4 separate regions of the Homo sapiens genome follow, and all the other regions are reported to be linked to region 1. The links are microRNA targets in miRTarBase. Many come from high-throughput screens and were not tested one by one. Region 1 holds a microRNA gene; each other region holds the end of a gene's coding sequence.
Evidence for each region. The annotated mature microRNA hsa-miR-5691 reads UUGCUCUGAGCUCCGAGAAAGC and lies in region 1 at 3,783-3,804, shown strand. An mRNA with a match to its seed (bases 2 to 7 or 8) in the 3' UTR can be bound and repressed. Matches are read on the target gene's strand: a 7mer-m8 pairs with bases 2 to 8, a 7mer-A1 pairs with bases 2 to 7 and ends in A, and an 8mer does both.

Region 1 (8,312 bases):
AAACCAGGAGTTTGCCACGATGACAACCAAGGGTAAGGAGAGTTTCCACCAGGGAGAAGTAGTCCACATGTCAGAGGCTGCTGGGGGCGGGGGGGGAGTCAAGAAAGGTGGGCACTGAATGGTGTCCCATGAGTGCAGAGTGGCACCTGCTTATGTGTAGTTCAGGGGCACGCATGGCCGGCCACTACCAGGCTTTCTTCAGCCTCCTCAAAGGCCCACACCAGTGTGACTGGGCTGGCTGGACTGCCTCTTCGCACCCCTGAGGCCTGGTTCATGGCCTCTCAGCCTGTGGAGAGGAGACAGGGAGAGGAAGAGGGAGCTTTAGCCTCAGTCCAGGGACGGTGTCTGAGGCCTTTCTGAGAAGTTTGTGGGGACCTCAGCTGCAGAATAGAGGGCAGCCTGCAGCCAGAGTAGAGCCAACCAAGTTCCTCCTGACACCAAAAACACTGACATTTGGACACAGTTTTCCCCTGGAGCTTCCCCCTGTGGAAATTCCCGGTTGTAAGCCATATTGACTTTAATCTCAAGTGTCAAAAAGGTTGCCCAGGAGTCTGGGAGCCAACAGCTGAAAGCACGTTTGTAAGGATGTCAGCGCAAACAAAATAGGATACAGAACATTTTTTGAGATCTGTGCCAGTGGTGGACTTTTCTGGGAAACATGACAAAAGCTGACAGTCTTAGGCAAAAAGGCGCTGATTCTTGTCATTATTAATTTATGTCCTTACTGAAAGATCAAGTTAGGGAAAGGTAAAGGGGAAGAATAGCACATGTGTGATTTCTTTGCCAGGCACAAGGGCGCTGCAGGAGGCTCCCCCTAGAGTTTAATGGGCAGCTTTATGTATTTATATGCTTTAACTGGAGCTAAAGAGGTCTGTGCCACACAATGGGCAGTTTCTAGTTGGATTTTAAAAGAAATAACTTTGATCATTTCAAAAGCAATGAAGCCTGATGCAGTGGAGAGAAAAGAAGGCAGTAATTTATGGCTACCATTAAGGACACAAAGACAAAGGTGGAGAGAACGTTTCACTAACTGAAGATTTACAAATGTGTAAAAACCACCCTTATGACCAGAAATAGCTGAGTGTCTCTCTCAGCACCAAACAAAAGGGAGTGGGAGGGAGGCGCAGACAGAAAGAGGGACGCAACCTGCCTGCCTTCACTGAAAGGGTCAAAAGAAAAACAACTACAGAAAAGTTATTTTCTCAGATAGCTCCATCAAGCAGCTGCACTAGCCACAGCCCAAAGAGGCAGGCCCCCGTGGGCATGTTCGGGGGCTGGGGTGGCAGACAGTGGGTACTGAGGGTGCAGAGGCTGGGAGCTCTGGGCTGTGGATAGGCCCCAAGAAGACATAAGAGTTTTTGTGCATGAGCTAGGTGGGGATTTTTTGGTGACATCTATTTTTTTTCTGATCTCCAAAGGAATGGTGTGTGTGTGTGTGCGCGCGTGCGTGTGCCTGCATATATACATATGTGTATGTATATAATCGCAGGAGAAAATTGAATAAATACGGAGAAGCTCAGTGAAGAACATTACTATCCCTAAGTGTGATGTTTGGTTGCGTCCGGAAATTGTTACTATATTTGTTCCTGGAGTGATGGTGGGTGTATTGGGCTCCAGCCATCCGTGTCAAGTGTGATATGGGAAGACCCTGTGTACCTGTTCCCTTGCAAGGACTGTCTTTCATGGAAGGCTAGGTGCTAGGCCCTGCCTGTGTTTGAAGCTAGCCAGACCTGATGTTTATGAGTTCAGGTGATCGTAAATGCCACCTGTACTCCGGCAAAGTCGGGGCTGCTGTCTGTTGTCTCTGGTGGCTCACCTTTGACCTCTAGCCCCCTTCCCCTTAGGCTGCCCTGAGATATACATAAGTAGCTTGCAGGGATTCTAGGCCCAGTGTGCCCCACAGTGGGACAAGTGGACCAGTGCCCTCAGGGCTGTGGGATGGAGGATCCCAGAGGGCCTGGGGTGGGCAGTGTGGAGAAGGGTGCAGAGGGTGTGCTGGGGTGGGCAGAGAAGCCAGGGTCACCTTCTCCATTCAAACAGCTGTTTTCCCGAATTGGAAGTCACCCCCAATTCCTTCCACTCCCACCTCCCACCTCCCACGTGGAAAGCCCCAAGATGGCTTTGGGGTTTGGGGACTATACGGAACACTTTCTGGGCGCCCTGACCCCGAATATTTCAATCTAGAAGGGCTGTTTGTCCTCACATGAGGGCCTGGGTCGAGTTGTAACACACTGGAACAGGCGCGGCACCGAGGGCTCCGAGCGTTGGAGCGGAGCGGGGATGCGGGGGGCAGCGGGCTGGGTGCCAGGGCTGCGCGGGGCGCGAGGCACGGTGCTGCCGCCCCGCCAGGCTGACAGCCGCGCTCGGGCCACCGCGGCCGCGCCCCCTCCACCCGAGGCCGGGGAGGGGACGGGAGGAGGCCGGGCGGGGCGGCACTGCTCCCGCCTGCGCTTCCCGCCCCGGCCCGGGAGGGACCGTGTGAAAATGAGGCCGGGGCTCGGGGGGCGGGCGGGGCCGGGCCGGGGGTGGCAGCGGCAGCGGGCAGGGCGTCCGCGCACACCTCCCCGCGCCGCCGCCGCCACCGCCCGCACTCCGCCGCCTCTGCCCGCAACCGCTGAGCCATCCATGGGGGTCGCGGGCCGCAACCGTCCCGGGGCGGCCTGGGCGGTGCTGCTGCTGCTGCTGCTGCTGCCGCCACTGCTGCTGCTGGCGGGGGCCGTCCCGCCGGGTCGGGGCCGTGCCGCGGGGCCGCAGGAGGGTGAGTGTCCGGCCGCGGGGGCGCACCTGGCACAGCAGGCAGGGCCAGGAAGAGTGTTTAGGTCCCCGGCGGAGTCCAGAGCCGGGCGCGCGGGGCTCGGGGCTGGCGGCTGCAGCTCCGCGGGGGCCTCTGCTCCCCCCGGGACCTCACCCGCCGGCCGGGCCAAGGCGCCACGACCGCTGGGGCCCTGAGTCCTTCGGCCCGGCCTCGGACCCGGAGCTGCTGACGGTTCCCGCCCCGGTCCGGATGCCTCCAGAGCGCCTGCTAGTCAGACCGTCGCCGGCGAGCAGGCAGGAGGGTGCGGACCCTGGCCTTGGGGTCCCGCGCCTCAGCGTAGGCGGGGAAACTGAGGGCCGGGCCGGGCACATCCGCGAGGCGGTGGCAGCTTTGCCGTTTCTTTCTTTGGGGGCCGGCAAGTTCTGCTGATGGCTTCGGGGTGGGCTCCAGAGACTTTTCTGTCAGCGGAACAGCGCCTGTTCCGATCTGGGAATTACCCTGAAGCAGCAACAAGCCTAGGTTTTCAGCAGAGAACTTTGGTTTCCAGAGAGGACTCTGGACGTGCTGTGCTTACTGGACTTGCAATACTTTCAAAATGCTTTTGTTTTTAATTAATATCCTGGAGTAGTGTCAACCCAGGAAATACTTCTGCCAAGGCGGGTTTCCAGGTTGAGAGGATGGGCAGGGGTGGGAGTGCAGGGGGCCGGCCATGGGGACACCATCCCCGCTTCGCAGCATCTGAGAGCCCTGGATGACATCTGCTCCGATCCCGGGGCAGACTTCCCATAAATACTCTAAACCAGCGGGGTGCAATCTTTTGGCTTACCTGGGCCACAGTGGAAGAAGAAGAATTGGGCCACACATAAAATATACCAACACAAACGACAGCTGATGAGCAAAAAAAAAAAATAAATAAATAAATAAAAAAAAAATCTCATAATGTTTTAAGAAAGTTTATGAATTTGCATTGGGCCGCATTCAAAACTGTCCTGGGCTGCACGTAGCCCACGGGCTGTGTTGGACAAGCTTGCTCTGAGCTCCGAGAAAGCTGACAGACAGCTGCTTGGTGTTCAGAGCTTGTCTGTCCGTTTGGTCCTTTCCTCCTTTAGCGGGCATGTAGGTACTATTGCCTACTCACATGCCAGGTACTGCGCTGGCTTGGCATAAGGGACACAGACGCAGTCTGTTGTCAAGACATTGTCTAGTGGAGAGAGAGGAAGGAAAACAGTGACAACCCTGCCTGATGTGTGCATGCAAAGCCATACATATGCGAGCACTTGGTGAGGGCAGCTACAATGGGGGTCATGGCAGGCTTCCTGGAGGAGGTGGATTTGAGCTAAGTCCTGAAGGCCAGTAGGTGATGGTGGGGGTAATTTCACGTAGAGTGTCCGGGCTGTTCCTGGAAACAGGGACCCAGAAACAGTTTGGTTTATCCCAGGGATCCCAAGCAGCTGTAGCTTGTGAGGAGTGAAGCGGGGTGGGCTGGTGAGGATGATGCCAGACAGGGCCGAGGCCAGATCACACATGGCCTGGGAGCCTGTACCAGGTGTCAGCTGTGCTCTTTTGCAGATGTAGATGAGTGTGCCCAAGGGCTAGATGACTGCCATGCCGACGCCCTGTGTCAGAACACACCCACCTCCTACAAGTGCTCCTGCAAGCCTGGCTACCAAGGGGAAGGCAGGCAGTGTGAGGGTAAGTGCCTTGGGGACCATGTGGGGGGACTGTAGGGAAGCTCCTACCTCCTTAGCTCTTGCAGTGGCCACTTATGTTGGTAAAAGTACTGCCCCTCCTCTCCCTTTCCCCCAGCCCCTGAATCACATCACCTGCTCTCTGAAATATATTTCAGATCTTGGACTGGAAACATTAGGTCTTCCCCAGAGCTGCTCACACAGTTTTATCTGGCTCTGAAATGTCCTTTTGTCTAGCTTCTGGAAAAGAAAAGAGATGTGTTAGTATCTTTGGGTCCCACTCAGTTTTGGGGCAGAAAGTAAACATCCATGCTGATCAGGAGAGCCATGCCTGCCAGAGCAGGGCTGATCCTGCACCTCCCTGGGGCGGTTTGTACCTTTGCCCTGAAGTCTGAGTGCTAGAGAGTCCTGCCCTCCCCTACCAGCTCAGGAGGCTCCATCCTGTTTATGGCTTTGGCCACAATGTTTGGCATTGTGACGTGCCAAGCTTCAGAGTACACCAAGGACCTTCCTCGTTTGGAGTTACAGGTTCACTCTGGAGAGATGTGTGCAGAGGGGCATTTTAGCCCATAGAGCTGCAGGTCTGAGAACCTGTGGTTTGGACTCTGCCATTTTATAATCTGGACTAGAGTCATGAACTGTGAAGTTCATAGCTGGCCAGAGACTGGACACTCGAGGCTGTTCCTGGAGATGGAAATCATGACACATTGGAGCTGACTGGGCTATTCAGGTAGCTCTGGGCCAATGCTATTACTCATTTCACAGATGGGGACACTGAGGGCCAGAGGAGTTGTGGCCATGATCACACAAGTTGCCTGCAAGTGAAAGAAAGTCAGGTCTCCACCCCTAGCTCTGTCCCCAACCCCACGTTTCTCATATTTACTCAGCCTGCTGCTGTCCTTCTTTGGATGAGTGAGAAATCCCACTGTCTATAGTCATCCCTTGCAGGAAGAAATTAGATGAGGAGCACTGAACTCATCTCTGAGTATCCCTCCTTGCTCCTGGACCCAACCTTGACAAGTATGTTGGTGGCCCCTTCCTCTTCGAGAGGTTTTAAACTCTTTAGAACTTGGGCTTAACTCCCATGGGAATTGATCTTCTGAATACTTGCAGGATCTAAAGCTACACAATGAGTAAGAAAGTCCTTCCAAGTCTCTTTCCACTTCGAAAAACATATTAACTTCTTTAGATGAGGAGGAAAACTTTTTTGAGACAGAGCTTTGCTCTTGTTACCCAGGCTGGAGTGCAATGGCGCGATCTCAGCTCACTGAAGCCTCCTCATCCCCGGCCAGGAGTGTGAGACCAAGCAATTCTCCTGCCTCAGCCTCCCAAGTAGCTGGGATTACAGGCGCCTGCCACCATGTCCAGCTAATTTTTGTATTTTTAGGACAGACGGGGTTTCACCATGTTGGCCAGGCTGGTCTCAAACTCCTGACCTCAGGTGATCCACTGGCCTCGGCCTCCCGAAGTGTTGGGATTACAGGCATGAGCCACTATGCCCACCCAGAGGAGGAAAACTTTTAATGAGTGTCTATTCTGGTGCCATTTAATGGCCTAGTGTCCAGACCCTGATGTTTCAAACCAATCTGTTTCATACTGTGGCCTCTGAGTAATAAAGATTCTAAATATTGGAACAGTATATAATGCTCAGCAGTGCCTGGTACATGGTAGACACTGAATAGACATCCTTATTTTTGAATAAGTGATTGTGTAAGATGGGCTCAGTCTACTAGCACCTTGACACAAAGTCTTTTCCAACAAACAGACAAACCCACAAATGAAATATCTAGATACAGAATATACAGATGACCAAGTAGGTAAGTGACTGTCAGATGCTTTTGCAGTGTTGTAGCAATGACCTGATCCTCCCTATCCACCCATCTCCTTGTCTTAGCATAGCTGAGACAAGAAATGGGATCTTTACAATGAACTTTGTTACAAAGGAAGGGAAGACCAAAAGAAAATATAGACAGCAAATATGAATAACAGATGGGATTATGACGGGCAAGTTTGGATCTGGTGACACCCCTTGGGATATCATTCAGGGAGCTCCCCTTTGTGCATGAGGAGTGAGGCTCCCACCGCTCCCATTGGAGAAGGTGTGGTCCTGGTCAGGTGCATAGCAAGTGGGGTTGGTGATCCATCCATGAAGTAGCTCACGCTCTCTCTCTCTTTCTCTCTCTCTTCCCCCCTCCCCCTGCCATGTCATGGGAGGCCAAAAGGCTATCTCTCCCCAGAACATTTATCTGCTGATTCCTCCATACCACACACTTTCGGTATTAAATATTCTATTTGCTGTACTGGAATTCACACATGTTGGTACCCTGCTTTGGAAACAAATGTTCACTTCTTTACTATGTGGATAACTCACGTCCTCCAGTTGCTGTGTGCTCTCTGGTGGCACAAAACCATTCCACTGACTTTATTTAGATAAAGTACACTTTTAGTAAATGATGTTAAATGACAATTGGCAAGAGTTTCCTTACTCTTGGCTTTTGAGTTTGATATATTTCAAATGAAATTGAATTGCTAACAGTTTATAGTTGAATTGTTAAAAGTCTATTATTTAGTTTAAAATAACTAATGATTGACTGGCATTGTGCCATATATATATATAAATTTATTTTAAAATGATATGTGATTGTTATAAAAAGTCAAATAATACAAAATGTGTAAAATAAAAAATTAAAGAGCCTCCCATCCATTTATCCACAGATAGTCATGGTTAACAGTGAGCATACATCCTTTGTACTGTCGTTTGGAACTCAAACCCTAGAAGAATTTGATCTTTTGAATATTTGTAGTATTTACAATACTAGTAAGTAAGGATGTCCCTCTTTTTTTTTTTTTTTTTTTTTGAGATAGAGTCTTGCTCTGTCACCCAGGCTGGAATGCAGTGGTGCAGTCTTGGCTCACTGCAACCTCCGCCTCCCAGGTTCAAGCAATTCTCCTGCTTCAACCTCCCTAGTAGCTGGAATTACAGGCGTGCACCACCACACCCGGCTAATTTTTGTATTTTTAGTAGAGATGGGGTTTCACCATGTTGGCCAGGCTGGTCTCGAACTCCTGACCTCAGATGATCCACCCACCTTGGCCTCCCAAAGTGCTGGGATTATAGGCGTGAGCCACTGCGCCCGGCCAGGATGTCCCTCTTAGTTTGGATTTCTTGGTATAGGAGTACAGAAATGGAAATTTTCTCCCAAGAAGGAAAAGGAGAGGAAATGAGGATTGCAAGGATTCAAAGATGTAGATATACAAAGATGTAACTCCTTTATCCATTTCTTGGCCTATTAATTTTTGAGCCTCTTGGGACCAACCTATGGTATCATTTGGGTTGTGATTATTGCCAGCTTCACTACTCATATTTAAGTTCAGGGATGAGGATCAGGTTTACTCAGAGTAACTAGAATTTTATCTTCCATAAAGTTTTCTTCTGCCAAAATGTTGGAGAAATGTGTGAGCCCTGAATAAGTGGGTTTAAAAATAATGTGATTCAGACGTTGCTTTAGGTAATCTTTTATTCTAAATGATCTTTGCTTATTTGCTTATTTATTGTATGGTTCTTACTTCTCAGTTTGAGGAATTGAATTGGCTCACGCCTGTAATCCTAGCACTTTGGGCGGCTGAGGCAGGAGGATACCTTGAGCTCAAGGGTTTGAGACCAGCCTGGGCAACATAGTGAGACCTTCTCTCTACTAAAGGTCAAAATAATTAGCTGGGTGTAGTGGTGCGTGCCTATAGTACTAGCTACTCCAGAGGCTGAGGTGGGAGGATCACTTGAGCCCAGGAGGTGGAGGTTGCAGTGAGCTGTGATTGCGCCACTGCACTCCAGCCTGGGCAACAGAGCAAGACACTCTGTCTTAAAAAAA
Region 2 (8,312 bases), not on the chromosome of region 1:
AATCCACCGCCTTGGCCTCCCAAAGTTCTGGGATTACAGGCATGAGCCTCCACACCCAGCCTGGCTCCCAGAGTTCTAGTTAAACATCTGCATTTGCCTGTTGGGCATTTCTACCTCAGTTTACTGCTGTCTACTTAAACTCAACATGCCCCAGAGCAGGCTCATCATGAGTACTGCACACAGTGACGGTCATAGAGCCCTGAGGAAGGAAGGCTATAGTGGGCATGTGGTTAAAGAACGCTCCATACATGGCCTATGGCTGGAGATGGTGGCTGGGAAGCCTCAGAGGAGTGGCTGGGGTTACTGGAAGTGGGCAGTTTGTAGATCCTTGTGGGGGTAGCAGAGAGGTGGCCTTACCAGAGCAGAGGTTCCTTTTGTGGGTATGTTCACTGGGGTTGGGTGTGGGGTAGGGTAGTAAGCAATTTGGCATCAAATTGTGGAGGGCATGAACACCAGCCCCAACAATTTGCGCTTTACCTCATAAGTGAGGGGGTGACATTTTAAGAGCAGAAGGGTGTAATCCCAGCATTTCGGGAGGCCGAGATGGGTGGATAACTTGAGGTCAGGAGTTTGTGACCAGCCTGGCCAACATGGTAAAACCCCATCTCTACTAAAAATACAAAAATTAGCCAGGCATGGTGACGGGTGCCTGTAATCCCAGCTGCTCAGAGGCTGAGGCATGAGAATCGGTTGAACCCAGGAGGCAGAGGTTGCAGTGATCTGAGATTGCGCAACTGCACTCCAGCCTGGGCAATAAGAGCGAAACTTGGTCTCAAAAAAAAAAAAAGAGGCATTGTGAGTTTTCTTCCTGTTTGGACTATAAGATCCCAGTGGGTGGGGGAGAGACTGTCACACACTCTGCACCTTGTATTCCCTCAGTGTTGAGTACAGAGGCTCCTAACAAAAGTCCGTTGACAAAAGGGCAATTTCCTTGACATAAATAAGGGAGGAGAAGGGGGCTTGCATTTACTGGAGAAGAGAGGAAGATTTTGGATTTAGACAGGTTGTCAGATGTGCCAGGAGCCATATGGGCTCCACTCCATGTCTGGCCGCCCCCAGGTCTATCCTGTCTTCAGGCTCCCTGGCATCTACCATTTCTTTACAGAGCAGCTGCCATTAACCACATTTACTGGGGTTCCTCTCCCTCAAGATGGGCTGTAGAGCAGAAACCAGCTTTATTGCTGTGTTCTCTCCCTCCAAAAACAACCTATCAAACCAAAGAAACAAACCCAGCATATAGGCCTTTTCTTGCTTTATGGGTTATATTGCTCTGGAGTGGGCTGTGAAGAATAATAATATATAATAATGCCTTTCAATGTAAGGACATTCCAAAACTTCCTGAGTCTCAGAACATTCAAATAGTCATTGCTTCTGGTTTACATACAGTTCTTGTCTTCCTTTTGTAGGTGATAACCAAAAGATCATTGTAGGCTGGGTGTAGTGGCTTAGTGGCTCACATCTGTAATCCCAGCACTTTGGCAGGCAGAGGCAGGCCGATCACCTGAGATCAGGAGTTTGAGACCAGCCTGACCAACATGGCAAAACCTTGTCTTTACTAAAAATACAAAAATTAGCTGGGTGTGGTGGTGCACTCCTGTAGTCCCACCTACTTGGGAGCCTGAGGCAGGAGAATCACTTGAACCCGGGAGGCAGAGGTTGCAGTGAGCCGAGATCACGCCACTGCACTCCAGTCTGGGCGACACAGCAAGACTCTGCCTCAAAAATAAAAGGTCGTTGTAATTCCCCTTTCTTCCCTCAATTTCTGCCCATTGCAGATCATACAATCCCTCTTTCTGGCATATGCTCTGTGTGTGTGTGTGTGTGTGTGTGTGTGTGTGTGTGTGTGTGTGTGTGTGTGTGTGTGTTGCGGGGGTGGGGGCAGGGTATGTCTTTCTTTTTCCTTAAAGCTCTTGTATAGTAAAATTAACCTCAAGGATTTTCCATCTTTTGAACCAAGCTGGGGAGAGCAAGGTAATCCTAGGGCAATTGTTCATAATTTGGGTCCAGACCTCTTGGAAAACCCAATGACAACTATGGCATTGCTCCTCAAAAAATGGCCAGGCATACACAACTATGCAACAATTCTGGGGTTTTATGGATGTCAAGTTGGACATAGAGCTCCTTAGATATAGAGGATCATCATAATTTGACAAGCCCCTTTTACTTTCTCCCTATCCCTACAGCTCCTGCCTGAAGAGTCACTAAGTGTCTTTTCTCAAGAATGTCATAAACAAGCCATGCAAGGTTTCAAGCTCTACATGCCACGGGGTCGGTACTGGCGGCTTCGTCTCTGTCCTGGTAACTCCTCATCCCAGCTTCTCCTTCCAGAGTTCCAAGGGGGTAATAGTGTCTCAGCCCTTCCAAATTCCGGTTCCCCTCCACTGTCTCCATCCTTGTCCTCAGCTTCTGTACCCTTCCCTCCTGAAATCCTACCCTCTTCTCCCAAACACTCCATTTAGGGGTTCAATGGATCTCCACAGCCTTATATTCTGTCTTCTCTATTCCAGAACCTCCCAGTGCTCCTAGTGAGTATGCTGGTTTAGTGGTCCGCACCGTACTGGAGCCTGTGTTGCAAGGATTGCAAGGGTTGCCACCTCAAGCCCAGGCCCCTGCCCTTGGTCAGGCTCTGACGGCCATCGTGGGTGCCTGGCTTGACCACATTCTTACCCATGGGATTCGGTTCAGGTCAGGAGTAAAGGTGGAAGTGGCAGGGGGTGAATGGAACTGGGAAAAGGAAGGGGATAAGTGGGAGAGGCAGGAGGGTCAAGTGGCCATACTGTACCTCTGCCTTCAGCCTGCAGGGAGCGCTGCAGCTCAAACAAGACTTTGGAGTGGTCAGGGAGTTGCTGGAAGAGGAGCAGTGGAGCCTGTCCCCTGATCTCCGCCAGACCCTGCTCATGCTCAGCATCTTCCAGCAGCTGGATGGGGCCCTGCTGTGTCTGTTGCAGCAGCCCCTGCCCAAGTCTCAAGTCCACAGGAGGCCCCCCTGTTGCTGTGAGTTACTCCCCTTCGCTCACTGCTTTGTGTGTCCCAAACCCTATTCTCACCATTAATCTGGCTTCAGTATATCCCCAGCAGCCACCTACCTTCCACTCCTGCCTTACCAGGTGCTTGTCAGGAGGTCCAGACCACGAAATTGCCCAGCAGCTGCCTCAATAGCCTGGAGAGCTTGGAGCCCCCGCTCCAGCCTGGAACATCTCCAGCCCAGACAGGTCAGCTGCAAAGCACACTAGGAGGAAGGGGACCTAGCCCGGAGGGCTACCTGGTGGGAAATCAGCAGGCCTGGCTTGCCCTCAGGCAACACCAGCGACCCCGTTGGCACCTGCCGTTTTTTTCCTGCCTGGGAACCAGTCCTGAATCCTAAGGAGCCTGGGACCAGGAGCCAGAAAGTTAAGAGCTCCCCATCTCTAGCTGGAAAATCCAGACATTTGGAATTGCATATTAAGGAAGCCCAGAACTGGAAGCTTGGAGGAAAGCATACTGGAGAATAAGCTACAAAGAGCCTGGGCTTAAGAATCCAAGATTAGGGGCTGGGCGAGGTGGCTCACGCCTGTAATCCAGCACTTTGGGAGACCGAGGCAGGCGGATCATGAGGTCAGGAGATCAAGACCATCCTGGCTAACACGGTGAAACCCTGTTTCCACTAAAAATACAAAAAATTAGCCGGGCGTGGTGGCGGGTGCCTGTAGTCCCAGCTACTCGGGAGGCTGAGGCAGGAGAATGGTGTGAACCTGGGAGGCGGAGCTTGCAGTGAGCTGAGATCCAGCCACAGCACTCCAGCCTGGGTGACAGAGCAAGACTCTGTCTCAAAAAAAAAAAAAAAAAAAATCCAAGATTAGGCAGGGCATGGTGGCTCACACCTATAATCCCAGCACTTTGGGAGGCTGAGGCAGGCGGATCACCTGAGGTCGGGAGTTCCAGACCAGCCTGACCAACATGGAGAAACCCCGTCTCTACTAAAAATACAAAATTAGCCAGGTGTGGTGGCGCATGCCTGTAATCCCAGCTACTCAGGAGGCTGAGGCAGGAGAATCGCTTGAACCTAGGAGGCGAAGGTTGCGGAGAGCCGAGATTGTGCCATTGCACTCCAGCCTGGGCAACAAGGGCAAAACTTCGTCTCAAAAAAAAAAAAAAAAAAAAAAAAAATCCAAGATCACTCCAGCACCTGGAATCCAGAGTAAAGAGCAAGACCATAGCCTGGAACCTGAAGGTCAGACCCTTGGGAGGTTCAGGCCTAGTTCTCCATCACTGAAGATATCTCAGGGATAAAGAGTTGAGTGCTCGGCCAGGTGAGGGGGCTCACGCCTGCTCACGCCTGTAATCCCAGCACTTTGGGAGGCCTAGAGGGGCGGATCACGAGGTCCGATCAAGACCATCCTGGCTAACGCGGTGAAACCCCGCCTCTACTAAAAATACAAAAAATTAGCCGGGCGTGGTGGCACGCGCCTGTAGTCCCAGCTACTCAGGAGGCTGAGGCATGAGAATCGCTTGAACCCGGGAGGCAGAGATTGCAGTGAGCCGAGATCGCGCCACTGCACTCCTGCCTGGGCAACAAGAGCAAAACTTCGTCTCAAAAAAAGAAAACTGGCTAGAATGCACTTCAACTTAAGTCCTGGGAGCTACGCTAATTCATGGAGAACCACAGAGGTTTAATAGGCATTTCTATACCTGGATCAGCCCCAAGGACAGTATTACCCTGTACTGCCCTTCCTATTACTATTTTCAGTCATTTACTAATATTGGGCTGTAGTACTTTCACGTTTAAGCTTTGGCTATTCAGAGCTCACTACGTTTAATCTTCAGTTACCTGAATGGTGTTTACCTTCTGGTGTGGATCATCCCGGCTTGTGTTAGTGCTCTCTCTTTGGAAGAAGCCAGGATTTAAGATCGAGTTAGCCTAGATGTGGCCCAGCAGGGTACAGAAGGGGAAAGGCTGCAGAAAACGGGCGTATTTTCGTGCAAAGAGGTTTTTGCGCCATTTATTTATGGTTTTCACCGTCGTATGAGAGGACTATTCATGATAGGCTGTATTTGCTGACAGCCTACTTTGGGCTCCCCCATGCGTTGTGCCGAAACCACCTCTTTCTTTCCTGCCTTCCTCCGCCTGGGCTAGGAAGCCCAGAGCTGCGGTTCGCAGGCCTGCTAAGCAGCCGGCGGCCGGAAGTCTATCCCGCAGAAGCGCAGCCATTCACGGCCTCACGCAATGCGACACTTCCGCCTGCACGAGTTCTTCCGGGGCGGAGGTCACCATGGCAGCTGCCTTGGCTCGGCTTGGTCTGCGGCCTGTCAAACAGGTTCGGGTTCAGTTCTGTCCCTTCGAGAAAAACGTGGAATCGACGAGGTACGAAGGGGAAGTGGGTAGAAGCGGGAAGTGGTGCGCCTTCCTTCAGCCGGGGCTTTAAGCCCTCAGCTTGGCGCTCCTCTGTTTTTCCACCGTAGGACCTTCCTGCAGACGGTGAGCAGTGAGAAGGTCCGCTCCACTAATCTCAACTGCTCAGTGATTGCGGACGTGAGGCATGACGGCTCCGAGCCCTGCGTGGACGTGCTGTTCGGTGGGCTTGGTGGAGACGGGCAGGAGGGAACAGCGAGCAGCCCGCGCGCCCCTAAGCCCCAGCACTGCGGTCCCTCCCTGTCTCACTCGTTTGTTTCTTCCCCAGGAGACGGGCATCGCCTGATTATGCGCGGCGCTCATCTCACCGCTCTGGAAATGCTCACCGCCTTCGCCTCCCACATCCGGGCCAGGGACGCGGCGGGCAGCGGGGACAAGCCGGGCGCTGATACTGGTCGCTGACAGCGCCAAAGAGACCAACAAGATGATTTTAGCGTGGACTAGGACACTTAACCTAAGAAGAGTTTCACTTAATCATTCAAATCACTATCTGAAGGGTCACGGAGCGCAAAATAAAGTTTAAAACCCTGCTACCACAATGTTTCTGGAACAAGACTAGATCAGAGAGGTGTCTGGATGAACCTGAATTTATTTCACTTTCTTACTATCACTCACTGCTTAACCCTTTTGAATTTGGCTTCTGGCTTCTCCTACCACTCACTCAAGGTACCTCTTTTTTTTTTTTTTTTTTTTTTTTTTTTTTTTTGACTGGTCTGTTTCTGTCGCTCAGGCTGGAGTGCAGTGGCATGATTCTAGCTCACTGTAACCTGGGCTTAGCCGAACCTCCCAAGTAGCTGGGAAGTTGGGACTACAGGCACGCCCCACGCGCCACCACGTTTAGTTAATTTTTAAATTTTTTTGTAGAGAAGGGTTTTCACTATGTTTCCCAGGCTGGTCTTGAAGTTCTGGGCTCAAGTGATCCTCCCACCTTGGCTTCCCAAAGTGTTGGGCGTGAGCTACTGTGCCCAGCCCTCTTACTTTTACCAAATCTTGTGTGAAAGAACACTGATAGGCTGAGCGTGGTGGCTCACATCTGTAATCGCAGCACTTTAGGAGGCCGAGTCAGGCAGATCACCTGCTTGGAGAAACCCCACCTCTACTAGAAAATACAAAAAAATTAGCTGGGTGTGGTGGCACAAGCCTGTAATCCCAGCTACTCGGGAGGCCGAGCGAGGCAAGAGAATCGCTGGAATCCAGGAGGTGAAGGTTGAAGTAGGCTGAGGTCACACCACTGCACTCCAGCCTGAGCAAGAGTGAGACTCTGTCTCAAAAAAAAAAAAAAAACAAAAACACTAACAGAGTGCTGTTTTTTCAGCTCTCATCGTTGTATCCCAGTTCCATCTTTTTTTTTTTTTTTTTTTTTTTTTTAAATAGAGGTGGGGTTTTGTCCTGTTGCACGGGCTGGTCTCTAACTCTTGGACACAAGTGATCCTCCTGCCTCGGCCTCCCAAAGTGCTGGGTTCACAGGCGTGAGCCACCAACGCCTGGCCGCATCTACAACTCTTGTTTTTGAGATAGAGTCTCACTCTGTCACCCAGACTGGAGTGCAGTGGCGTGACCTTGGCTCACTGCAGCCTCCGCCTCCCGGGTTCCAGTGATTCTCCTGCTTCAGCCTCCTGGGTGGCTGGGATTACAGGCATGTGCCACCACGCCTGGCTGATTTTTGTATTTTCAGTAGAGATGGGGCTTTGCCATGTCAGCCAGGCTGTCCTCAAACTCCTGATCCGCCCCCTCGGCTTCCCAAAGTGCTGGGATTACAGGCATGAGCCACTGTGCCCGGCCTGCAACTCTTAATTCACCCATTTGTGGAACTTCTCTCCCTCTTGGGTCCTTTTTCTTTTGAACCACACAGGTGTTCTACCTTCATTCTTTTTCTTCTCTATTTTTTTCTGGGGCATCTCATCCTCTTTCACAACTTGAATTACACCTTCTGGGGTTAAACTATTTCTGTTTGGTTCTAATCCCAACTTCTATGCTATAATCAGGTTACCTGCTACCAATTTCCTCCAAATCCCACCAACTCTCTTTGTATAAAATAGAATTGATAATCTTACATACACATATACTTGCCTCTCTTCCCTGACTTACCCATTCCTTTTTAAAAACAGGCACTTCATCTACTCAGCCACCTGGGCTGGAAACCAGTGTTCTCTAGTTCTGTTCCTTTCCATTCTCTGCATATCTGGTCACTCAGTTCAGAATATTCTGTCTTTTAAAAAAGTGCCTGAAAGTTGGGCAAGGTGGCTCATACTTGTAGTCCCACCTACTCAGAAGGCTGAGACAGGAGGATCCTTTTGAGCCTAAGAGTTCAAGGCTAGAGTGAGCTGTGGTTGCACCACTACACTCTAGCCTGGTGACAGAGCAAGACACTGTCTCAAAAACAAAACAAAACTTCTGAAGTGATCTCTCCATTCCCATTCACTCTATTCATCATTATTGCATTCTGCTACCCAGTCTATTTCCTAAATATTTTTGCTGCCACTTAATTTTATCCTTCCAAAACATGCGATGGGTTTTATCTCTCACTACTCCCTGTTTAAGAAAACAGTGCCGGCCGGGCATGGTGCCTCATGCCTGTAATCCCAGCACTTTGGGATTTGGCCGAGGTGGGTGGATCATGAGGTCAGGAGTTCGAGACCAGCCCAACCAACATGGTGAAACCTCATCTCTTAAAAATACAAAAATTAGCCGGGCGTGGTGGCAGTTGCCTGTAATCCCAGCTACTCAGGAGGCTGAGGCAGGAGAACTGCTTGAACCCAAGAGGTGGAGGTTACAGTGAGCCGATACTGCACCACTGCACTCCAGCCTGGGTGACAGAGCAAGACTCCGTCTCAAAAAAAGAAAAAACATTGCCTAAACTGTTTTTCATACTTCCTCAACACTCATTAGTGTGGACCATGCAATCAATTTAGGGAGTTAAACC
Region 3 (8,312 bases), not on the chromosome of region 1:
AGTAAATTCATAAACTTGTAACATAATCATTTGTTATCATTATCAAGTATTATGTGCTATACATAATTGTATGTATTATACTTTCATATAAGTGGCAGCACAATAGGTTTGTATACACTAATATCACCACAAATGTTGTGAGTAATGCATTGCACTACAACCTTATGATGGCTATGACACCACTAGGTGAGAGGATTTTTTCAGCTCCATTATATAATCTTATGGGACCATTGTTGAATATGCAGTCTGTCATTGACAGAATCATCATTATGCAACACATGATTGTGTATAGTTAGAATAAAAAAGGAGACACAGGGAGGGGAACAACACACACTGGGGCCTGTCAGGGGAGGGTTGGGTGGAGGGGAGAGAGTATTAGGAAAAAGAGCTAATGCATGCTGGGCTTCATACCTAGGGCATAGGTTGATAGGTGCAGCAAACCCCAGTGGGACATGTTTACCTATGTAACAAATCTGCGTATGCTGCACATGTACCCCGGAACTTAAAAAAAGTTTTTTAAAGTAGAGAGTGTGCCAATTCCTTCAGGAAAGTAGTTTTTCTAGTATTGGTTTTCACTTGGAACACTAAGAAGTATAACGTACTTTAACTTCAGAATCATTTTTCAGCAAATACATTGACAATGCCTGAAAATGCTTCTTGTAGCATTGTTCCAGAAATGCAAGGAGTATAAGCAATTTCGTAATGGGCTAAGATCATGTGGTTCAAGAATAAATGCCAATTAAATGGATTTTGTGTTTTCAGTCAATTGTCCCTTAGGATCACTGTCAAATGAGGCCAGGAGTGAGTGTAAAGGAATGACTACTATGTCTGATTTAACAGTACTGAATTTGAAAATGTGTCAGGAACTGGCTATAATGGCTTGGAGTTCCTAAGGATGATAAATAAAATATGTGTTAAAAGTTTTGCAATTATGTGGTAAGTAGCATAACTCCAGAAATTATGAGGCACCTGCGCAGATGGGTGACCTCCCACCTGCATCCAGTTCAAGCCATGAGCAGGAATAGTCTGGTCATAGAGGAAGAAGTGATGCTGCCAGAGGTGTGAAGAGAGTATCATTTCAACTTGATTGTCTGCAATAGTGTATCCTCTGATAAATCATTGGTGGTCAAGAGAGTCACACCAACTGGTAAGAGAAACTATTGGAAACCTCTGTGCTATGTATCCTGGCCACACTTATTTTTTTTCTAAATCCAAAAGTATATTCTGTTTGCTTACCCAAACTGCATCAGTACACGGACTTTCTGTCAGCTCTTTCCTACTATGATACTTCTCAAGAGAATGGTTGTATACTCATTTTAACACCCATGCTTTGATGAATGATTGAGTGCAGAGTGTTTGGCATTCTGTTTTCATTGATAGAAGTCTATAGTAATGGAATTCAAGGTTGTTGAGAAAAAATTTTATTTGGAAACCAGATGAAAATGTGGCAGAGTTGAATATATTGTGAAAAAAAAGGAGATACTAGTGTTCTTGCTTAGCAAAGTAAGATATGAGTATTTTTTAAACTTTGGATTATAAGATTTTCAAACATACACCAAAATAAAGAGGAGAATATAAAGGCATCAATTTCAACAACGATCGATGTATGCCAATTTTATTCCCTATCATCCATACCCAAAATATCATAGCATTACATCTGTAATTATGTAGAATCAAAATATAAATTGAATTATAATAAACATATTTCTGGCTGGGCACAGTGGCTCACACCTGTAATCCCAGCACTTTGGGAGGCCGAGGCAGGTGGATCACTTGAGGTCAGGAGTTCAAGACCAGCCTGGCCGACATGGCAAAACCCCGTCTCTACTGAAAATACAAAAATTAGCTGGGTGTGGTGGCACACGCCTGTAATCCCGACTACTCGGAAGGCTGAGGCAGGAGAATCACTTGAACCTGGGAGACAGAGGTTTCAGTGAGCCAAGATCGTGCCACTGCACTGCAGCCTGGGCAACAAGAGTGAGGCTCTGTAAGAAAGGGAAAGAAAGAAAGAAAAAGAAAGAAAGAAAGAGAAAAAAGAAAAAAGAAGGAAAGGAAAGAAGGAAGAGAAAGAAGAAAACAACAAATAACATATTTCTGAATTTCATTTTCTATTCATGATAGTACTTCATGAATTTCCACAAGTCATTTCTAAATAATACATGCAGGTAGATTTATTTCGTCCTTTATTAAATATTTAATTTCTTCAGAACCAGGATTTTTAGTAGTGTCTTCCTCTGCAAATACCTCTCAGGACCCAGTACAGTGAGATGCCTAAAATGGTGCTTGATAAATGCTATCTATTGTGAGACACATGCTGTTGTTCTGATCAACATAACTGCTACTGGCAGAAACACATAATCTAATGATGAGAAATGCAGTGTCACTTTCTAATGAAAACCACTCATTAAAACATAAAGTTTATGACAAGAAAATTATATATTTATTTGGTATAAAATTATCACAACCTTCACCTAATAATATCAGCACCTCTATTCCATCTCTTGGTTAAATAAATGAAACAAAAATGGTGATCCAATCATGTAAAGTTACTTGTTTTCTTTCTTTTCATCTTTTCACCACTGTTGAAATGTTCTCTCCAATATATTTAGCTTTTGAAACTTCATGAGAGTGAATGGAAATTCATTCAAATCTGGCTTTGTAATGAGTGGTTCATGGTTTTTGGTTTGTTATTTTTAACCTGACGTATCTGGAAACGTTCCCCTCCCCAGACTTGTTTATTGGCTCTCCTGCTCTCTCTCCTCAAGATCCAAAGCTAAAAAACATGCTGTTGAAAACAAAACAACTCTAGCCAAGGGAAATCTATGCAATGGAAAAGGGATTCTCCAGAATAAAGTGTAACCTCAAAACTGTGCATATTATCTCTCAAACAGGATGAGTACCTTCTCACTGCCAAAGTAGTTGGAGGGACATCAAACACCAGTGATGGGAACACTGAACCTCACATAAGGTAAAGCGATTCAGGAAAGTTTTGGTAAGCTCTCAGGTCCTGAATATAGATATATAAACTTAGGAAATGGTTTTCTCTGCTGAGCGGTTTCCTCAGGAGATTGGTTCCAGGACCTCCATGGATACCTAAATCTGCAGATGCTCAAGTTCCTAATATAAAAGGGCATAGTATATTCATATCACCTATGCACATTTTCCCACATACTTTAAATCATCTCTAGATTACTTATAAACCTATTACAATGTAAATATTATACAAATAGTTGTTATACTGTATTGTTTTTAAATTTGTATTATTTTTATTCTTGTTTTTTTTTTCAGATATTTTTTATCCGTGATTGGTTGACTCCACAAATGTGGAACCCACAGATAGGGAGGGCTGAATGTATTTGCAATATTGTCTCTGATTTATTAGAAAATAAACTAACATGTATACAAGTTACTGAGCTAAACACAACCAGATCCAGAATCATGTGGTAATTGAAATGCTTCACCTGAGCAGCTGGGCTTCAGTGCCTCTGTAACTGCACTGGAACATAAAAGCTACTCCTAGAAACACACAACTCTCTCTCTTTTTGAGTTTCAAATTTCTGAGATAAGTGTCCCACTATCTAGACTAATATGAGTCCGGTTAAAAGTATTAAAGTATCTTTGGGGTATCTATGGAGTGTTTTTCAGGGGAAAAGTCATATGAGCCATGCAGGTACCTGCAGAAAGAACATTCCAGGCAGAGAGAAGAGGAAATGCCAAGGCTCTGAGATGGAAACATGTCTGAAATGTTGGTGAAATAGCCGGCAGACTAGTGATCAGGAGAGAGAGTAGGAGGTGACTTCAGAGATTATCAGTGAGCCCATTGTCTAGAGCCTTATAGCCCACGTAAAGACTTTGGCTTGTATTCTAGGTGAGATGGGAAGCACTTGGAAATTTTAGGCAGGAGAATTATGTGATTTGACTTGACATATTTTAGAACAGTTATGTTTCGAATAGACTGAAAGAGGAAGAACACGGAAGCATGAAGATTAATTAGAAAGCAATAACAATGATCTAGGAAACAAATAATAATGGTTTGGGTCAGGTGTAAGAATGGAGGTAGGAGCTGGATTCTGAATATAAGTACAGAACAAATAGGTTACGCTGGCAAGTAAGATTGAGATAAATCACTGCAGGGTGGGCAGAAAAGAGAGTTCACTAGACAGGAAGCTGGGATTTCTGAGTTGGAGTTTTGGCCAAAAACACATTTACAATGCTACTGGAAGAAAGTCGCTGAAAAGTATGAAAGTCACTGAAAAGTATGAAGTCACTGAAAAGTATGATTTTTCACACCTACAAAAATGGGGTTAATTACCTTCAGGACCTCACAAGACAAATGATTATGACATCTGTGTAAATGTTGGTTTGCTTGGATTGAGTCACTGCTCTATGTGACTTTGTGCAAGTGAATTATTAGCCTGAGCAACTGTGGAGGGAAGGATGAAATCAAATCTGGAATATTTTGAGAACAAACAAAAAATAAAAATATCACCGCTGTGAAGAAATAATTTAAGAAGCTTTATTTTAAAAGGCAAAGGCCGAGCAAAGTCACTCACCTCTTTAATCCCAGACAGGAGGATTTCTTGAAGCCAGGAATTTGAGACAAGCCTGGGCATCATAGTGAGACCTTATCTCAACAAAAAATAAAAAGTTAGCTAGGCATGGTGATGTGTGCCTGTAGTCCTAGCTACTCAGGAGTATGAGGCAGGAGGATCGCTTGAACCCAGGATTTCAAGGCTGCAGTGAGCTATGATGGCACCACTGCACTCCAGCCTGGGTGACACAGTGAGACCCTGTCTCTACAACAAAAATTAAATAAAATACTCTTTCTGAGCTCAGAATAGCCATAGAAGAAAGTTCAAAAAAATTATTTTAATCAAAGCCTTATGATTCCTAGTAGTAATATGGATTTTGTACTCTTTGAACCTAGATTTATGAATTGTTATCAAGGCACGGATTGAGGAATACAAACCAAAAAGAAAACATAAAATGACAAAAAAACCCCTTCATTTGCAGTTTCAGTTTCAGTTAAACACAACAGTCTTCTTCTGTTTTCTCCTCTCTCTAAGCAGGTTTGCACTACTCTGGAATTTTTCTGAATTTTTACTAAGAAGAGAAATACATGACTGAGTTATTCTAAGGGACTCAAAAGTTTACAACTTTCCCAATCTGCTTAAATATGCAAAGCCCAAGCTACCTCTTTCTAATTCACAAATACAAAAAAGCACCCATAGTTGAAAGTTTAGGATAAGTATGGAAGGGTTGGTGAGCAGCCAGCCAGGGTGAGAGGGCAGGAGACATAGAGGAGAAAGCAAGGCTGTGGTGTTCCACATGGAGCCACCTTCTCAGCAGAGAGGCATGCTCTCAATTACCCTTTCCTTCTCCCCTTTATTTCTCTATAACCTCCCAAGTCTTCCCCATAAAACATACCTATCCTAAGTCCAAGTATCTCAACATCCTGAAAAGTAACTGAAAAGCCATTTAATAAGCCAATTTAAATTGAATTATTAACAATAGATAAAAATTAGTCTTTGAGCTTTCTCTGCATTTTGAGGAGGAGCTCCCAGTAATACAATGGCCTAAAGTCCTGGTTAAAAGGTGAAATGCTTAGGTACCATGAAGATAGATGTTTAGCAAGGAGTTCCTTTGAGAAAGACTCATGAAATCTTCCCATAAGGTGGTTTTCTTCTTTGCCAATACTTTAAAACAGTAGTCTTTAGCATTGTCCCTAAGACCATCTCAGGGGGTCCACATAATCAAAAAATTATTGTCATGATAACACCAATAAATTATTTGACTTTTTCACTCTCATTCTCTAATAAATGTGCTCTGAAGTCTTCCAGAAGCTATATGATGTTTGATGTTGGCATCACTCTGATGGCTAATAGGATATATGGTTACACATTTTTGTATTTAAATTTTATCAGTTTTAATTTCAAATATGATAAATATCAACAGATATAATTCACATTACAGAAAAAGCTCTTTGGGATCCTCAATGATGTTTTCAAATGCATAAAGGGGTCCTAAGACCAAAATGTTTAAGAACTGTTGCATTAAGTCATCCTGCCTGATCTAGTACCAATTTAGCAGAGATACTAGAAATACAGCAAAATACAAGGGGTTGGTTCCCACTAAATTCAAAACTATGTGAGCTAATCTGTCTGCAAAGGTTGGTATCTAAAAGCAAAATCAAAAGAACACATATAAAGAAGTGCTGCAGAACTGACAGGGTCATGTCAAAAGGACATAGGCACCAACTCAAAGGAGCTCACACCGGCCAGACATCTGATTTGTGTTTTTGTGATTAGTCAGAAACACCAGCTTATCTTTTTTTTTTTTTTTTTTTTTTTGAGACCGAGTCTCGCTCTGTTGCCCAGGCTGGAGTGCAGTGGCGCTATCTCGGCTCACTGCAAGCTCCGCCTCCTGGGTTCACGCCATTCTCCTGCCTCAGCCTCCCGAGTAGCTGGGACTATAGGCGCCCGGCTAATTTTTTGTATTTTTAGTAGAGACGGGGTTTCACCGTGTTAGCCAGGATGGTCTCGATCTCCTGACCTCGAGATCCGCCCGCCTCGGCCTCCCAAAGTACTGGGATTGCAGGCTTGAGCCACCGCGCCCAGCCCAGCTCATCTTTTAGGAGGGGAAAGATAGAGAGGAGGGGAGGGTTTTACATATGATGGGAAAAGACAAGGATTATCATTCATTTCCACATTTCCCAAGAGAATATCATAAGCCAAATATTTGGAGTCAACACTTTTAATTGTTCAATATTTTACTACAAATATAAGAAACAATACAGAATTAAATAACACATGAAAATCTTGCTATATATATATATAAATATCCAATTTAACAGCGAAAACAACTTACACTTTAATTCCTAGGCCACTGGATAGACACAGACAAAGCAGAAGATACTGAAAAAGCAACTAATTATGGTTATTAAAGATTCAACATCATTCCACTAGCTGGAACAATATCTTTAGAACAAAGGGATTGTATGCTCATATTTGCCTCCTCTGCTATTGGGAAAAGTTAACGCATGGAAAAAGAAGCCAGCAGAGACAAAGCATATGAATTGGCTGACTGCTATACAGGAAATCTCCTAAACATCTGTTTTCATAATGTATTTTCATTATATGAGGCTGAATTTAGAATGACGTAAAATAGGGCTGGGTCATGTTATAAGACAAATGGACAGGGAGGGCATGCTTCTCAAAAAATGTGAGCTATTGTCTAAGACTAACAATATTTATCTAGCTATAAAAATAAGTTAAATGAATAAGTTAAGATTGCCAATGTTACTTCACAATAAATTCAGTCCTATTTGTGTTGGAGTAAATCTCATAGAAGCACATGAAGAACAGCAGTGAAACCAAGGATTCTAGCAAGGCCAGCTATTAGCAAAGCAGTAAGCAGGAACTGGACTAGATACCAAATGATGGGGAAACAGACTCATAGACCTAAGAACATAGGAAGAAGAGATGTAACATCAACAGAAAGGCAAAAGGTAAGCTCTCTGTATTCTTTCTTCTCTCTCTCTTTCAATTCTTCCCCCTTTGCTTATTCCCTTTTTTTTTCTGGAATTACATTTTAAATTAAGTTTTAGAGCTATGTGGTAAATTATTTGGTCCAATTCCTTTATACTTTGGATGAGGTAAAGTGACTAACAGAGGTCCCCACCAGTAGGAGCCCAAGTCAGTCTGTGAGCTCAGTGCTCCTGATACTAACTAAGTCCAGTGCCCTTTCAACCACATAACATGGCATTGCTTTACAAAATCAAGTCCTACAACAGACCTGAGAGGTAAACTGACTTCCTCTTGGGATTCAAACACTGAGTAGCTCAGATGGCAGTAAAAAGTCGTGGGATCCTTAAGGCTTTCGCTCCCACCTCTTTTGCTCTTTCAGGTCCTTTGGAGAATGGCCCCTTTTCCTCCTGCTTTTCTCTTGTGTCAAATTCAAGTAGACCAGGGAATCACTTTCAGGGTGCTGTGTGACTTATTTAGGGCTCTGGATAAAAGAAAAACAAGGTATTAACTTTGGACACTTGTAAATTCTATCATAATACATTTTAAGAAGATAAATAATAGAGAGATTAAGAAACACAGAGTTATTCTAGTGTATATTCATTGGCAAAGATAAAGAAGTAGACATTTCTGACCCAGTATGGTGTGAGGGGACTATGACTCTTTACAAGAACAAAAGTAGGCTGGATGCAGTGGCTTGTGGCTGTAAGCCCAGTGTTTTAGGAGGCCGAGGCGGGAGGATCATTTGAGCCCAGAAGTTCAAGACCAGTCTGGGCAACATAGTAAGAC
Region 4 (3,000 bases), not on the chromosome of region 1:
TCTTTTGCCTCAGCACCCCTGTAGCTGAGATTACAGGTGCACACCATCACCCCTGGCTAATTTTTGTATTTTTAGTAGAGATGGGGCTTCACCATGTTGGCCGAGCTGGTCTCGAATTCCTGACCTCAGGTGATCTACCTGCCTTGGCCTCCCAAAATGCTGGGATTACAGGTATGAACCACTGTGCCTGGCTCATTTTTTCTTTTTCATTGCAGTTTTAAAAATATTGATATTGATCCTCAATCCATTATATGTAATTATAAATACATATGTGAATATAGAAATACATATTTTTGCTAAATGATTTGAGAATGAGTTGCAGACATAATACATCACTTATAAATATTTCATTATGAATCTCCTAAGAACAGCATTCTCCTACATAATCACAAATTTATCACGCTCGGGGAATTTAACACTTACAAAATACTTCTGTCTAATACATAGTTAATAATGTTTATAATTGTTTATATTTCCTAAATCCAGGACCCAGTCAAGGTTTATATAGTGCATTTAGCTCTCATGTCTCTATTCTCCTTTGGTGTAGAATAGTTCCTCCATGTTTTGTGTTTTTTTTCTTGTGATATTAGTATTTTCAATGAGTTGAACAGCTGCTTTGCAGAGTTTCTCCCTAAATTTAGATTTGTCTGATAATTTTCTCATCAGTAAATTTAGGACAAGCATTTCTGACAGGACTAGTACACGGGTGGGGCTGTTTTTTTTCAGTACCTCATATTAGGTTTTATTTATTTTTTTCAGACGGAGTCTTGCTCTGTCGCCCAGGCTGGAGTGCAATGGTGTGATCTCAGCTCACTGCAACCTCTGCCTCCTGGGTGGGTTCAAGCAATTCTCCTGACTCCCAAGTAGCTGGGACTACAGGTGACACCACCACGCCAGACTAATTTTTGCATTTTTAGTAGAAACGAGATTTCACCATATTGATCAGGCTGGTCTCGAACTCCTGACCTCAGGTGATCCACCCGCCTTGGCCTCCCAAAGTGTTGGGATTACCGGCATGAGCCACCCACGCCCAGCCTCAGTACTTCATGAGGTTTTAGATGTTCATTGCCTGTTGTTGGTTTCCATATAAATATTAGAATTAACTGCAAAGTCATACAAGAAACCTTGCCAAGATTTTGATTGGAATTGATTTCTATCTAGAGATTACTTGCATCTCTTTATTAGACTTATTCCTAGGAGACGGACATGGTGGCCCACACCTGGAATCCCAGCTACTTAGGAGGCTGAGGCAGGATTACTTGAACCCAGGAGGTTAAGGCTGGAGTGAGCTATGATCCATTACTGCATTCCAGCCTTGGTGACAGAGGGAAAAAATAAATAAATAAATAAATATTTAAATCAATTTATTTCTAAGTACCTTATATTTTCTGTGACATATAAATCTTTTGTATTTAAAGGTTTGTTTTGTTTTTATGGTAAATGGTACCTTTGTAAAAATTACACTTTCTAGCTATTTGTGGCTAGAGATTACTTATGATTTATATTATTTCCAGTAGTTCCTTTTTTATAAACTATATTTTATTTATTTATTTATTTATTTATTTTTGAGACGGAGTTTCACTCTGTCGCTCAGGCTGGAGTGCAGTGGCGCGATCTCAGCTCACTGCAAGCTCCGCCTCCCGGGTTCATGCCACTCTCCTGCCTCAGCCTCCCGAGTAGCTGGACTACAGGCGCCCGCCACCACAACTGGCTAATTTTTTTGTATTTTTAGTAGAGACAGGGTTTCACCGTGTTAGCCAGGATGGTCTCGATCTCCTGATCCACCTGCCTCGGCCTCCCAAAGTGCTGGGATTACAGGTGTGAGCCACCGCCCCTGGCCTAAATTTTATTTATATTATTTGAAACTTAAGACAGATAATGACATACAGTGAAAAGTCCTCCTCTAACCCCTAACCCTGGCCATCTGATTCTTTCCATCTGATTCTTTCCAGAGGTAATCAGTGTAACCAGTTTTTTGCATACTCTCCCAGAACTATTTTATATAGATACAAGTAAATCGTGTACTTATATTTTATATATGTTAGCATTAAATAAATGGCAGGCCTAGTAACAGAAATAAAAGTCACATGGAAGGACTATTGTAGGAAGGACAGTTTGGTTTCATAATCAGATGTTTGTAATGATTATAATGTAATAACTTCACAAACACTCAGGAAAAAGCAAATTATTTAATGGAAAATTCCAAAATACATGAGAGCCATTTCCATTCAATATACTTTGTTACAACAATTCCATGTACTTCCAAAATCAGATGCTTTGTAGACTAGCTTGGCAACATGGTGAAGCCCTGTCTCTACAAAAAATCAGCTGGGCATGGTGGCATGTGCCTGTAGTTTCAGCCACCTGGGAGGATGAGGTTGGGGGGTCACCTAAGCCTGAGAAGTCAAGGCTGCAGTGAGCCATGATCGTGCCACTGCACTCCAGCCTGGGCGACAGAGCAAGACCCTGTCTCAAAAAACAAAACCCAGCAAGACCCCAGTCTTTTAACTTGTGAAGCCCCTTTACTCGTCTTTCAGCGCATACAGCACATCATCCTGGCTGACGTTGAGCCGCACCCGAAGGAGCAGATCGTTCCTGCTGGGCTCCACAAGCAGGAGGCGACAGGAGCCCAGGTGAGAACACACGGCCATGGTCTCTGACATGGTGGGGTACGGCAGTCCCTCCATTCTGCACAGTGCCACATGTTGACTATATATCTAGACACAAATAGCAAGGCAAAGGTTAAGAGGAAATACAATCCTGGGGCTTTTTCTGTTCCTTTCTTTCTTCATTTGGGAAAATCAGACACATGGCCCCCAGGATATCAAACACTCCAGAAGGCATCAGTTGGTGCCCCAGTGGTACACAAAATGCAGAGGCAGAATGGAATGCTAGCCTTGGAATCAGAAAACAGCAGGCCCGAATCCTGGTGCTACCATTTACCTAAATATGTAGACCTGGCCAAGTTACTGCACTCTTTTGAGCTTCAATTTTATCTAT

Region 2: the mRNA of CCDC142 is a reported target of hsa-miR-5691. Seed matches in the 3' UTR shown: 8mer at 3,790-3,797, 7mer-A1 at 4,182-4,188 and 7mer-A1 at 4,555-4,561.
Region 3: the mRNA of CD200 is a reported target of hsa-miR-5691. Seed matches in the 3' UTR shown: 7mer-A1 at 7,894-7,900.
Region 4: miRTarBase lists ORC1 as a target of hsa-miR-5691. The part of its 3' UTR that is shown has no 7-base or 8-base seed match.

Annotation. Positions count from the first base shown.
Region 1 is chr11:9,085,842-9,094,153 of GRCh38, reverse strand. MIR5691 (microRNA 5691) reads left to right here and starts at 3,775; the gene lies at 3,775-3,842. SCUBE2 (signal peptide, CUB domain and EGF like domain containing 2) reads left to right here and starts at 2,555. Exons shown (of 23, transcript NM_001367977.2): 1 at 2,555-2,758; 2 at 4,325-4,447. The coding sequence starts at 2,626.
Region 2 is chr2:74,469,598-74,477,909 of GRCh38, reverse strand. CCDC142 (coiled-coil domain containing 142) reads left to right here. Exons shown (of 9, transcript NM_001365575.2): 6 at 2,184-2,298; 7 at 2,508-2,685; 8 at 2,795-2,994; 9 at 3,108-5,078. The coding sequence ends at 3,364. MRPL53 (mitochondrial ribosomal protein L53) reads left to right here and starts at 5,230. Exons shown (of 3, transcript NM_053050.5): 1 at 5,230-5,341; 2 at 5,440-5,552; 3 at 5,658-5,928. The coding sequence starts at 5,250. The coding sequence ends at 5,791. RefSeq lists enhancers at 5,192-5,291, 5,692-5,821.
Region 3 is chr3:112,361,238-112,369,549 of GRCh38, reverse strand. CD200 (CD200 molecule) reads right to left here. Exons shown (of 6, transcript NM_005944.7): 6 at 6,738-8,007. The coding sequence ends at 8,000. Among named protein-coding and RNA genes, the nearest start is that of CD200, 32 kb to the right of the region's middle.
Region 4 is chr1:52,370,659-52,373,658 of GRCh38, forward strand. ORC1 (origin recognition complex subunit 1) reads right to left here. Exons shown (of 17, transcript NM_004153.4): 17 at 2,171-2,717. The coding sequence ends at 2,523. Among named protein-coding and RNA genes, the nearest start is that of CC2D1B, 6.0 kb to the left of the region's middle.